2 separate regions of the Homo sapiens genome follow, and region 1 is linked to region 2. Evidence: fine-mapped expression QTL. Tissue or cell type: nucleus accumbens. Region 2 holds a variant in brackets; the other region holds the start of a gene. All regions are shown on one strand. Distances are between the middles of the regions.

The links. PIP is the estimated chance that this variant, and not a neighbour inherited with it, causes the effect.
Region 1: it holds the start of SFRP1, and the variant in region 2 is fine-mapped to the expression of SFRP1 in nucleus accumbens (GTEx, PIP above 0.99).

What each region holds. Positions count from the first base shown.
Region 1 is chr8:41,306,345-41,311,710 of GRCh38, reverse strand. It overlaps SFRP1 (secreted frizzled related protein 1), which reads left to right and starts at 2,238. Exons shown (of 3, transcript NM_003012.5): 1 at 2,238-3,095. The coding sequence starts at 2,552. RefSeq lists enhancers at 71-598, 2,518-3,288, 3,289-4,060.
Region 2 is chr8:41,340,093-41,345,458 of GRCh38, reverse strand. No RefSeq gene overlaps it. Among named protein-coding and RNA genes, the nearest start is that of SFRP1, 33 kb to the right of the region's middle. The variant A/C (reference allele first, on the strand shown) is at 2,497.

The DNA of each region.
Region 1 (5,366 bases), 34 kb after region 2:
GGAGTGACCAGACATAGGCGAGGTCTTCCCCTGAATGGATTTGTGAGATTTACTCCTGACTTGGGACTTCCAGGGCAGTCACCTGGACGAATTTCCAGCATTTAACCGTGGACAGACACAAGTCCTCCTGCCATTCGGGAAAACTGAAAACGTGAGTGAGCGGTCAGCTAAGCCTGGGTTCAGAGGTGAGAGGATGTTATCTGCAAACATCCATCTTTGCAGTGAGCAAACAGACGCATTTGGCTTGAGGTGGAGGGCCTGGCCCTAGGAGACAAAAAGACCCCCTACCAAACAGCATTTTTCTCTAAATGCCCCTTGAATTGAGACACAGTTGCCGGGTCTCCTGCGGTCTTATTCTCTGTGAGGAATGTCTTCCTCAGCTCCACAGGCCGGCCTCACCAATTGTCTTGGGATTAACCCTTGGCCATCCCGATCTTGCTCTCTCTTCTCTGTGTTTTCCTTCCAGCCTCCATGTCACCTTTTGAGTGTCAAGGCATCTTCCATTGGCCACGAAATGACAGAGAAGTCATCCATCTGCAGAAGCCTCCTGTGTGCACCGTGGAATCACCGTGTCTGTACGGGCACGAATGCTTTAAGAAAACAGCCCTGCTTCTTCACAAACTCTAGTCATTTCACTTGGAATCTGTCCATCAAGAAATTAGGTTTGCAGAGTCCAAAGCAAGCTCCCTAGAGCTTTACAAACAAGCTGGCGGGCAAGGCAGCGCGCCCTATAGTGTCTCTGTGGAGCGCTAAGATCTGTGACCCCTTTGCCACATGGGGTGTGCGCTCAGACTGGGCTATGAATATATCAGCCTCTCTCCACCCGCACTTAGGGACAGAAGATATGGAGACTCCAGGAACTTCATGAACTATTTGCTGTGGTCTTCTGTCCCGGGATAGTCCGGGTCTCACTCCCAGCTCTCCAGAGCTTAACCCTCCCTCTCAGGGGAATGTTTGAAACCTACGAAGAATTCTCAGGAATTCGAGGTAGAAGGTGGCAGAGAGACTTCTGTTCCTGGGGGCCGAGCTGTTGTGCTGATACCGTCCTCTTGGCGTCTGCCCTAGTGGGGACCCTTGATTTTAACTTGAAGTTCCTGGACTGGGTCTAACCTTAGCATGTGTGCCTGAGTGATGGACTTGGTATTTACACCAGCCACGCTGATAAGTGCACATGTGTTTTTAATGTTTTGGCTTTCCACACCACAAACACACAGATGTGCTGTCGCCCGGGCTAGGACTTGAGTAGGGTTTTTCTATTTAAATATATATTATATATTTAAAAAAGTGTCCTCCCAGAGCTAATACCGTTGCTAGCAGCTCTTCCTGCCGCCACACCGGGCAAAGTCCACCCACTGCCCCAGTGTTGAGGGCCACCATGGGCGGCCCCACCTGGAGAGGTGCTGCTCACAGCAAACAGCTCCAACTGCGCCTTCGCCTCGCCTTCCAGGGAGCCCAGCCAGGCCCACTGGGTATTTACAAGCAGACCTCCCTCGCTTCAGCCTTCCTGAACCCCTGTTAGTTGGGAAACCACCTGTCTGCACCGCAGCTAGAGAACCGAGGAGAGGAGCCGCTAGTCTAAAGGGCTGTTGGTTGAAATTAGGAAGCAGTGTAAAGAAAAAGAAAAAAAAAGTTTGGGAGGCCAAGGCAGGAGCATCACCTGAGGTCAGGAGTTCGAGACCAGCCTGGCTAACATGGTGAAACCCCGTCTCTACTAAAAATACAAAAAATTAGCGGGGGCATGGTGGCACGCGGCTGTAATCCCAGCTACTCGGGAGGCTGAGGCAGGAGAATCGCTTGAACCCGGGAGGCGGAGGTTGCAGTCAGCGGAGATAGCGCCATTGCACTCCAGCTTAGGCAACAAGAGCGAAACTGTCTCAAAAAAAAAAAGTCTTCATAATTTCATGGGTTTGCAAGTATGATCCAGGCTCCCCGCTTCTCTGCAAGCCAATGCGAGTTAATTACAGCGTCCGCCCTGGTCTCTCTCCACCCCACGCCGTGATCCATTCCCCTTCTTTTTCTCCCCTTGTCTCTTTCCTCCTCCCCCTTTTATTTATGTATTTTTGGTTTTGTTTTTTAAGGGGTGTTGAGCCGCGTCTGGTTCTAGTAAACCGAACCCGCTCGCGAGGGAGGCGATTGGCTCCCGCGCCGGTGACGGACGTGGTAACGAGTGCGGCTCGCCCCGCCGGGAGCTGATTGGCTGCGCGGGGCGGCTCCGAGGGCTCGGCCGTAGGAGCCCCGCGCACTCCAGCCCTGCAGCCTCCGGAGTCAGTGCCGCGCGCCCGCCGCCCCGCGCCTTCCTGCTCGCCGCACCTCCGGGAGCCGGGGCGCACCCAGCCCGCAGCGCCGCCTCCCCGCCCGCGCCGCCTCCGACCGCAGGCCGAGGGCCGCCACTGGCCGGGGGGACCGGGCAGCAGCTTGCGGCCGCGGAGCCGGGCAACGCTGGGGACTGCGCCTTTTGTCCCCGGAGGTCCCTGGAAGTTTGCGGCAGGACGCGCGCGGGGAGGCGGCGGAGGCAGCCCCGACGTCGCGGAGAACAGGGCGCAGAGCCGGCATGGGCATCGGGCGCAGCGAGGGGGGCCGCCGCGGGGCAGCCCTGGGCGTGCTGCTGGCGCTGGGCGCGGCGCTTCTGGCCGTGGGCTCGGCCAGCGAGTACGACTACGTGAGCTTCCAGTCGGACATCGGCCCGTACCAGAGCGGGCGCTTCTACACCAAGCCACCTCAGTGCGTGGACATCCCCGCGGACCTGCGGCTGTGCCACAACGTGGGCTACAAGAAGATGGTGCTGCCCAACCTGCTGGAGCACGAGACCATGGCGGAGGTGAAGCAGCAGGCCAGCAGCTGGGTGCCCCTGCTCAACAAGAACTGCCACGCCGGCACCCAGGTCTTCCTCTGCTCGCTCTTCGCGCCCGTCTGCCTGGACCGGCCCATCTACCCGTGTCGCTGGCTCTGCGAGGCCGTGCGCGACTCGTGCGAGCCGGTCATGCAGTTCTTCGGCTTCTACTGGCCCGAGATGCTTAAGTGTGACAAGTTCCCCGAGGGGGACGTCTGCATCGCCATGACGCCGCCCAATGCCACCGAAGCCTCCAAGCCCCAAGGTAAGGCTGCCTCCTCCCACGTGCGCGAGCCGCCCCCTCCATCCCCCGGCCGGAGCTGCAGGAGAACCCGCGCCACCCTACGCCCGCCCGCCGCTGGGTCCCGGTGCTGGGGACTGAGGGCCCGAGGTTGCTCGCATGCTGTGCACGTGATTCCTAAGCGCGTCTGGTCTGTCCCAGGTATCGCTCAGCGCCCCTCGCGACCCAGGTGCACGGCGGGGCTGGCCCGGGAGCGGCAGCTCTGCGCCTTGGCCTCGCAGGGACTCGCTGTGGTCCCCGGAGCCGCTCTTCCTGGGATCCAACTTCGCCTTTCCCATACCTGAAACAAAGCCTTGCGCTTTAAATAACAGGGGAGCTTCCCTCTCCTCTAGGAGGACTCCGAGTCCCTATCGAAGTTTTTAACCTCTGAGACGGGAGGAAAAAACAAAAACCCAAAGCGTAGAAAGTTCAGAAAGGCCGAGAGAATGCTTGGAGCAGCTTTTGTTTATTTTCATAGGTTCGACAAAGATTTAAAAAATAAAACCAAGCCCTTTCCTTCACTGGTCATTCAGTCAAGTAGCCTTGGGATTGCTGCAAAACTGGCTGAGAAAGTTTAGGAACCGTGGGGACTTCTGTTTCTCCACCCCTTCCAGGTACCAGCTCTGCCCTCGGAGGGCTGGGGGTGGAAAGTCTTTTCTCCCTCCCTCTAGCGTACCCCCTGCTTTTCTCATTTACACAAATCCTCAGCTCATTAGAAAGATAAAAATGTAATTAGCTCATTGTTCATCTCCTCCCGGGGAGAGCAGCTCTGCAAAATGCAGACTTTCCTAACAGCCTGAGGGACCGGCCCGAGGTTCCTCTCAAAACCCCCTTATGTTTAAAGAGCAATTCTTGAGGGGGAAGAAAAAAAAATCCTGGGAAGTCAAATAAAATGAAATAGATATAAAGATAAAATATACACATCACAGACCTGACTTCTATAGAAGTAAATTCAACCCAGAATTCTTTAGAAGCGAAGTTTAGGCTCTGAGGTGTGGAGAGGGTCAGGGATTGGGGAGCTGTACCCCAGCTGCGCTTAGCACAGACGCAGGCTTCCTGAGGGCTTTTTGAGGAGGGCCTTTAGGGTGGGGGAGAAAGACTGCCTACACTTAGCTCACCTTAAAGTGTCTTTAACCTCTGTTATTGATGCTAAAAGAGGGGAGTGCAGTCACCTGGCTCCTCAGAGTGAGGATTTGGGCAGGTGGGGGAAAGGGATACCCCAAATTTTAGATGCTTTTGCTTATTCTAGGGAGGGTGGAGATGGGTCCACAGTGACTGTCGTTGGATGGCTGGATGGGAACGGCACTGATTGCCCGCAGTGGCCAGGTCTGGGCACCGCTGCTCTCAGAGTCAACTCTGGTGTTGGGAGTGGAGTGAGGGTAGCGGATGCATCTGCACTTTGTGAGCGAGAACTGAGCAGTTACCTGGAGCAAACAAAGCGCCTTGTGTTCTGTTGGCTTGCACCCATCCCCTGCAGCCTGCGGGAATTTCCTTCTCCCCTTCCTCAGCCAGCGGGGATTAGCCCAGCCCTGCCCTGTGAGGCTGTGCCCAGCCCTGACCTGGAGTCCATTCCCAATGGCTTCCGATGGTCTCTTTCTGGGACCGTCTGCAGACATGAGTGGACACCTTAGGGGGCTCGGCTGCGGAAAAGGTGCTGCAGTCCACAGGGAACATGGGGGGATTGGACGGGTTGCCTGAAGAAGAGAGGAAAGAATCCCTCACCCCAGCCCCCAAAAGGCTGTGATGGGATGGGGAAACCCCATAATCGCTGTCTTCCGGACACCTTTTGCCCCTTGGCTGCAGTTCCACTGGTCGGCGCCCTTCTCAGCCTGGCTTGGAACCGTCCTCACTCACCTCCACTCCTCCCAGCAGCGCTCAGGTAGTCACCCTCCCAAGACAGGTCTTTGAGGAGCAAAGAGAAAAGTGGGGAGAGGGCCGGTCGGGAGTGGGGCTTGGGACTGGTTTTCCCCTCAGTGGTTTTGGTGGGGGGCTCTGCCCTGAGATGGCACACCACCCTCCCCAGGACTGCAATCCCTGGTGTAAGGGAGCCCCACGTGATTTCCTGCGAGGTCCCTGTGGAGGGGAGGGTGGGGCGTGTGTGTGTGTGTGTGTGTGTGTGTAGGTGTGTAGAGGGCAGGTCAAGACAAACCAGACTACTGATCCTCATAACCTTATGGCTTGTGGCTGTGGGGTCGTAACTGGCACTTTCCAATGAGAATAAGTATGCATGCACTACTCTTTTATTCGTTTATTCTT
Region 2 (5,366 bases):
AAAGGTGATTTTCTTCCCCCATTGCCACATCCCCCAAGATGGACTCTTCCTTGAGAGCTGAAAAGAGGCTCCACTCACAGCTCAGGAGAAAAAGACCCAGTTCCCTCTTGGACCACGTTCATGTTGGCTGCCAGGATGGCGTGTTAGAGGACTTCTGCCACCTAAGTCACGTGGGGAAAAGTGCGCTCTGTTCTGGGGGTGAGATGGAGGCAGGAACACCCATTACAGGCCTGGCTGGGACTGGGCCTACCTGGTGGTTGCAGATTTCTTTCTTTATTGAGCAATGACTGAATTTAAGAGTCCACACTCCGGCTTATATTCTCTTACCTATAAAATAGGAAAAAAGAGACTGGGCATGGTGGCTCATGCCTGTAATCCCAGCACTTTGGGAGGCTGAAGCGGGCAGATAACCTGAGGTTAGGAGTTTGAGACCAGCCTGGCCAACATGGTGAAACCCCGTCTCTACTAATAATACAAAAATTAGCCAGATGTGGTGGCACACACCTGTAATCCCAGCTACTTGGGAGGGTGAGGCAGGAGAATCGCTTGAACCCAGGAGGTGGAGGTTGCAGTGAACCAAGATTGTGCCATTGCACTCCAGCCTGGGTGACAAGAGGGAAACTCTGTCTCAAAAAAAAAAAAAAAAAAAAAAAAAAAGGAAAAAAGAGGGTGGTTTCTCTCTTTGTACAATCCAACACTACAGGGATGGCTGTGAAATTCTTTGGACTCAAAAAGGAAAAAGACAGGAAGAGGCCAAAATCCTAAGGAAGGATAAATGAGGAAACAATATAGAGAAAAGTCTGGCAGGGAAAAGGCAGGAAAGGAAGCAGATGGAAAAAGAGGGAAAGAAAGGAGAAGAAGAGAGGAAGAAAGTGAGGCAGGGGAGAAAGCAGACAGAAAGGGCAGAGGCAAGAATGATTCTGGTGACACAGAGGCCAGGCTGTAGGATGGACACTCTCCAGTGCATCTGTGGGCGAGAGAGATTTTGATTTGAACTTTTTCAGGGACCTGTTTTCTCAGATGTCCTGGGGACACGATTCTAATACCTTGGAAAACACCAATGTGTGTTCTTTGGTGGTTCTGGGTCCTGGGACTGGAAGGAGGGAAAGGAAACCCTCCCAGAAGCAGGAAGTACTGGATCCCGGCTTTGGGCTTGTGTTGGATGGGGAGGAAACAGGCCCTCATAGAGAGGATCTGTAAAAGTCTAAAGTGGGATAAAGCATTTAGCATATATGAAGTCATGGATGTAAATTTTAAAACATTATAATTTTATTTGTTATAGGTCAATGTATGAAGAAAATCAGTATGGCGTCTGGGTGTAGTGGCTCACACCTGTAATGCCAGCACTGTGGGAGGCTGAGGTGGGAGGATTGCTTGAGGCCAGGAGTTCAAGACCAGTCTGGGCAACATGTTACGAACATAACGTTTGTGGAGACCCTGTCTCTACAAAATAAATGAATACATAAATACATTAAAAATTAAAAAAAATTGAGCTGGGTGTGGTGGTGCACATCTGTTGTCCCAGCTACTTGGCAGGCTGAGGTGGGAGGATTCAGCCCAGGAGTTTGAGGCTGTAGTGAGCTGCGATGGTGCCAATGCACTCCAGCCTGGGGGACAGAGCAAGACCCTGTCTCTAAAAAAAACCCAATTACTGTGGAAACAATTGAGCTATGAAATACCAAACCACTGCCTACCCCCAGCTCCCACCTTCAAAGCACACCAGCATCTCTCTGTGCGAGGACCCCTGTGAGCCGGGAGGGGTCCTCTGGCTTGGGTGCTGGCACCCGGTCTTAGAGCAGCTTCAAATTCTCAACCCCAAATGGAGACATGCAGCTTCGCACATGGTCTGACGGTGGGCTGGAGTATTTAAAGTTAGACCATTCTGGGAAATATCACTGATGTACAGACTTCCCAGGCAGGCCTCAATGATTCAGCCATGGACCTGCTTTGCCCTCACGGGGAGGAGGTCCCTGACAGCGTGGAGGTCCCTGTCCACCCACAGGGGAGGAGGCCTCTGCGTCCTGGCAGGAAATAGCCTTAGGTCTGTGTCTAGGAGTGGAAGTCAGGCTCTGCCCAAGGGATGACCCATTTCCTTTTCCTTTATTTCTCCAAGTGGAGAATCCCCAGGACCCTGAAGGGGAGCGCCCTTCCGGAGGGAGCCACATGTCCCGCCTTCCCCTTGGCGGCGGGCATGGAGCTGCCTTCTTCCCACATGAGAGCAGGGAAGGAAAAGGAAAGCAGGGCCGCTGGCGGGGCTGAACTCAGGAACCGCTTGCCTCTCCCAGCCCGGCCCCCACTTCCCTATCCCTCACCACCCCCATCCGCTGGTAACGCAGGGTGTAATCTCGCTTCTAACACAGAATTACAGAAAACGAGGGGGAAAAAGCCCCGAAAAGAATAATTAATTTCTGCTTCCTCATGCAAATCCTTCGGCCAGTCATCCGAAGTTCAGAGCAGGACCAATTCAGTTCCTTGTGCGAATTCCAAGCTGAAGGC[A/C]TTTAGAAAAGGAGAGAGCGAGAGGAGAGAAATTGAATGGATTTACTTTTCTAAGAACCAGAATTAACAAAGGTTCCATTTTCCGTGGTTATGGGTCTGGCTAGACAGCCCTCACTGACAAGCTCTCCAAACACATGTGCTGGCCTGCTGAAAAGGCCTCAGTGTTGACTGACAGATAATTGAAGTGACAAATTGTTTCATTGTATTTGGCAGAGAGAGTGCTGTATTAGATAATTATGGGGAACAGAGGAGCTCTGGGGTCTCAGGTCACAAGACATGCCTGACCCTATTTTCTGAAAACTCTGAATGGAGTTCTGGGTCCCCGAGGACCTGAGTGTTAGGCTGGCTCTTTGTTGTTGTTGAGTTTTTTTCTTCCCCTTTCCCTCCTCCTCTGCCTCCATTGCCTGCCCTTCCCCCCCTTTTCCGATCTAATGATTAAGAGCTAAAGAATATAGAGACCTCCAGAGCCGAGGGAACGGGCCCTGCCCCCACCATGCCCGCCCCCACTCCAATTCCTCCCTTTTTAGGAAAACAACTTGTGAATTTTCTCCATGGTAGCCCGTTTGCAAACTCTTCTTCTTATCAGCTCCCCACAGTGGCCTGAAAGGAGGCAGCCGGGGACAAATGAGTGGCTTCAAAGGGTTGAGGGGTGAGGGTGTCCCCCTACCCCTCAGAGGGAGGGGAGCAGAGCTGCTTCTCCGCGTGGCCTGGTGAGGTGGGAAAATGGAAGACCCACAGTTAGTGGGTGGTGAAATAGGTCAGACCCCAGCTTGTGAAACTCTCCATCCAGGGCTCTTTTTCCCAAACCTGCTGGGATACAAATTTTTTAAGATCAGGAGTGCAAAATGCAAATCACAATATCCCCCTCTCTCTTCCTGGCCCTCTTTACAGCTGTATAATCCTACAAGAAACTGGAAGCAGCTTCACACACACCGTCTTTAGCCTCATGCGTGATCGGGCCTGGGCACAGGGTGGGGGCAGATTTCCCTGTGCCACACAGCAAGGAAGGGGCCAGTCGCCGCCCCGCTGTGTCCTCCACCCATTTCCCAGATGCCCCCTACAGAGGTGGACAGGGATTCTTTAGGGGAGAGAGAGACCCTCAGAGCAGAGACATTCCCGGATGGTTCAGGAAGGAGCCCGCGACAGGCTGGAGGAAAACCTACTTACTCCTGCAGGGGACGAGTGAATGGCTTGGTGCCTCTGCTCTTAGCACCAGTGGGGGAGGGGCAGTCTTCAGATTGGGGATTTAGGATCTTCACTATAAACCCCATTTGCTCTCTACAGGGCTTTGATGCTCTGGAAGATTTACTTTGCTTTTAAACAGAAAGGGTTTTGGAATTATTCAAACTCTCAATGTTCATTTTTTTTTTTTAAGTTGCGTTTTCACTTTTCCCTCCATGCCTTTTTCTCCTTTCTTTTGGTTACCTTTTATTCTTAATTATAAGTCCAGAGAAGACCCCCCAGGAAGCAGTTTGATGTTTGGTTTCCAATTCTGTTATCTTAAAAAAAATAAAAATAAATAAAGCACACGGGGGGAGCACCGGGACATTTCTGAGTATGTGACACAGCTGAGTTCCATAGATTTTCTGTTTTTTTTTTTTTTTTTTTTTTTTTTTTTGAGACAGTCTTGCTCTTGTCACTGAGGCTGGAGTGCAGTGGCGTGATCTTGGCTCACCACAACCTCCCCCTCCCGGGCTTGAGCAATTCTCCTGCCTCAGCCTCCTGAGTAGCTGGGATTACAGGTGCCTGCCACCATTCCTGGTTAATTTTTGTATTTTTTGTTTATTTATTTATTTATTTTTTAGTAGAGATGGGGTTTCACCATGTTGGCCAGGCTAGTCTCGAACTCCTGACCTCAGGTGATCAGCCTGCCTTGGCCTCCCAAAGTGCTGGGATTACAGGCATGAGCCACCCCCTCTTGGGACTTGGCCACGATCATGTGGGAAGTCCAGGCCATCTGGTGAAGCCACATGGAGGTGCTTTGGATAACAGCACAGCTGAGCTGCTGACAGTCAATGTCAACCATCAGCCATGTGCATGATTCATCTTGGAGGTCCAGTCACATTCAGACTCTAGGTGATCCATATCCGGGCTCCATTTATCTGAATATAGCCCATGAGAGACCCTAAACGAGAACTGCCTGGCTGACTTAGTCAACATATACATGAACCATAGTATATTGTTGTCTTAAACGACTTAAGTTTTGGAGTGGTTTGATACACAGCAATAGTTAACTAGAGCAAACCACCAGGACTTTATCCCGTCCTTGGGATGGTGCTGAAAAGAAAAGGGGTTCTCCAGGAGAGGAAGGAGAAATTGGCACACAATCCACTCAGAGCAGACAAAGCAAAGACCCAGGAGAAGATGGTGCAGAAAGCCCTGGTGCAGGAAGTGCCACTGGGCCCCACGTGCTTTGAAGTACTAGGGAAAAAGCTTCATTTTTCTCTTCTTTTTACTAAAGGATGCTTTTCCTTATGAAATAGATCTGAAGTATTCACCATGGCAGGCACCCGTCATCCCTCCATCATTTGTGGAGTTGAGTATTAACAGATTTGAAGGTTAGGACAGTGGAGGCTGAGGATGTCTTTATGAACAGAGGACTCTGCTGGAAGGTTCACATCCAGAAGCTGGAAGGGCTGGTAGAAACCCAAGGTCACCAGGAAGACAAGCCGGGAACCCGGCTGACTCTGTCCTTGGGCTTTAGTACCTGGCCTGGCAGAGAGCTGGATGCAAGAGCAAGTGAAATCCAACAACATCAAAGGCCTTTGTCATGGGGTTTTAATTTTTCTGGCCCAATGGGCTTATTATTTTCTATTTTCTTTTCCTGCCACTCCATCCCATCACATCCTCCGGCCTGGGTCCTCCCTCAT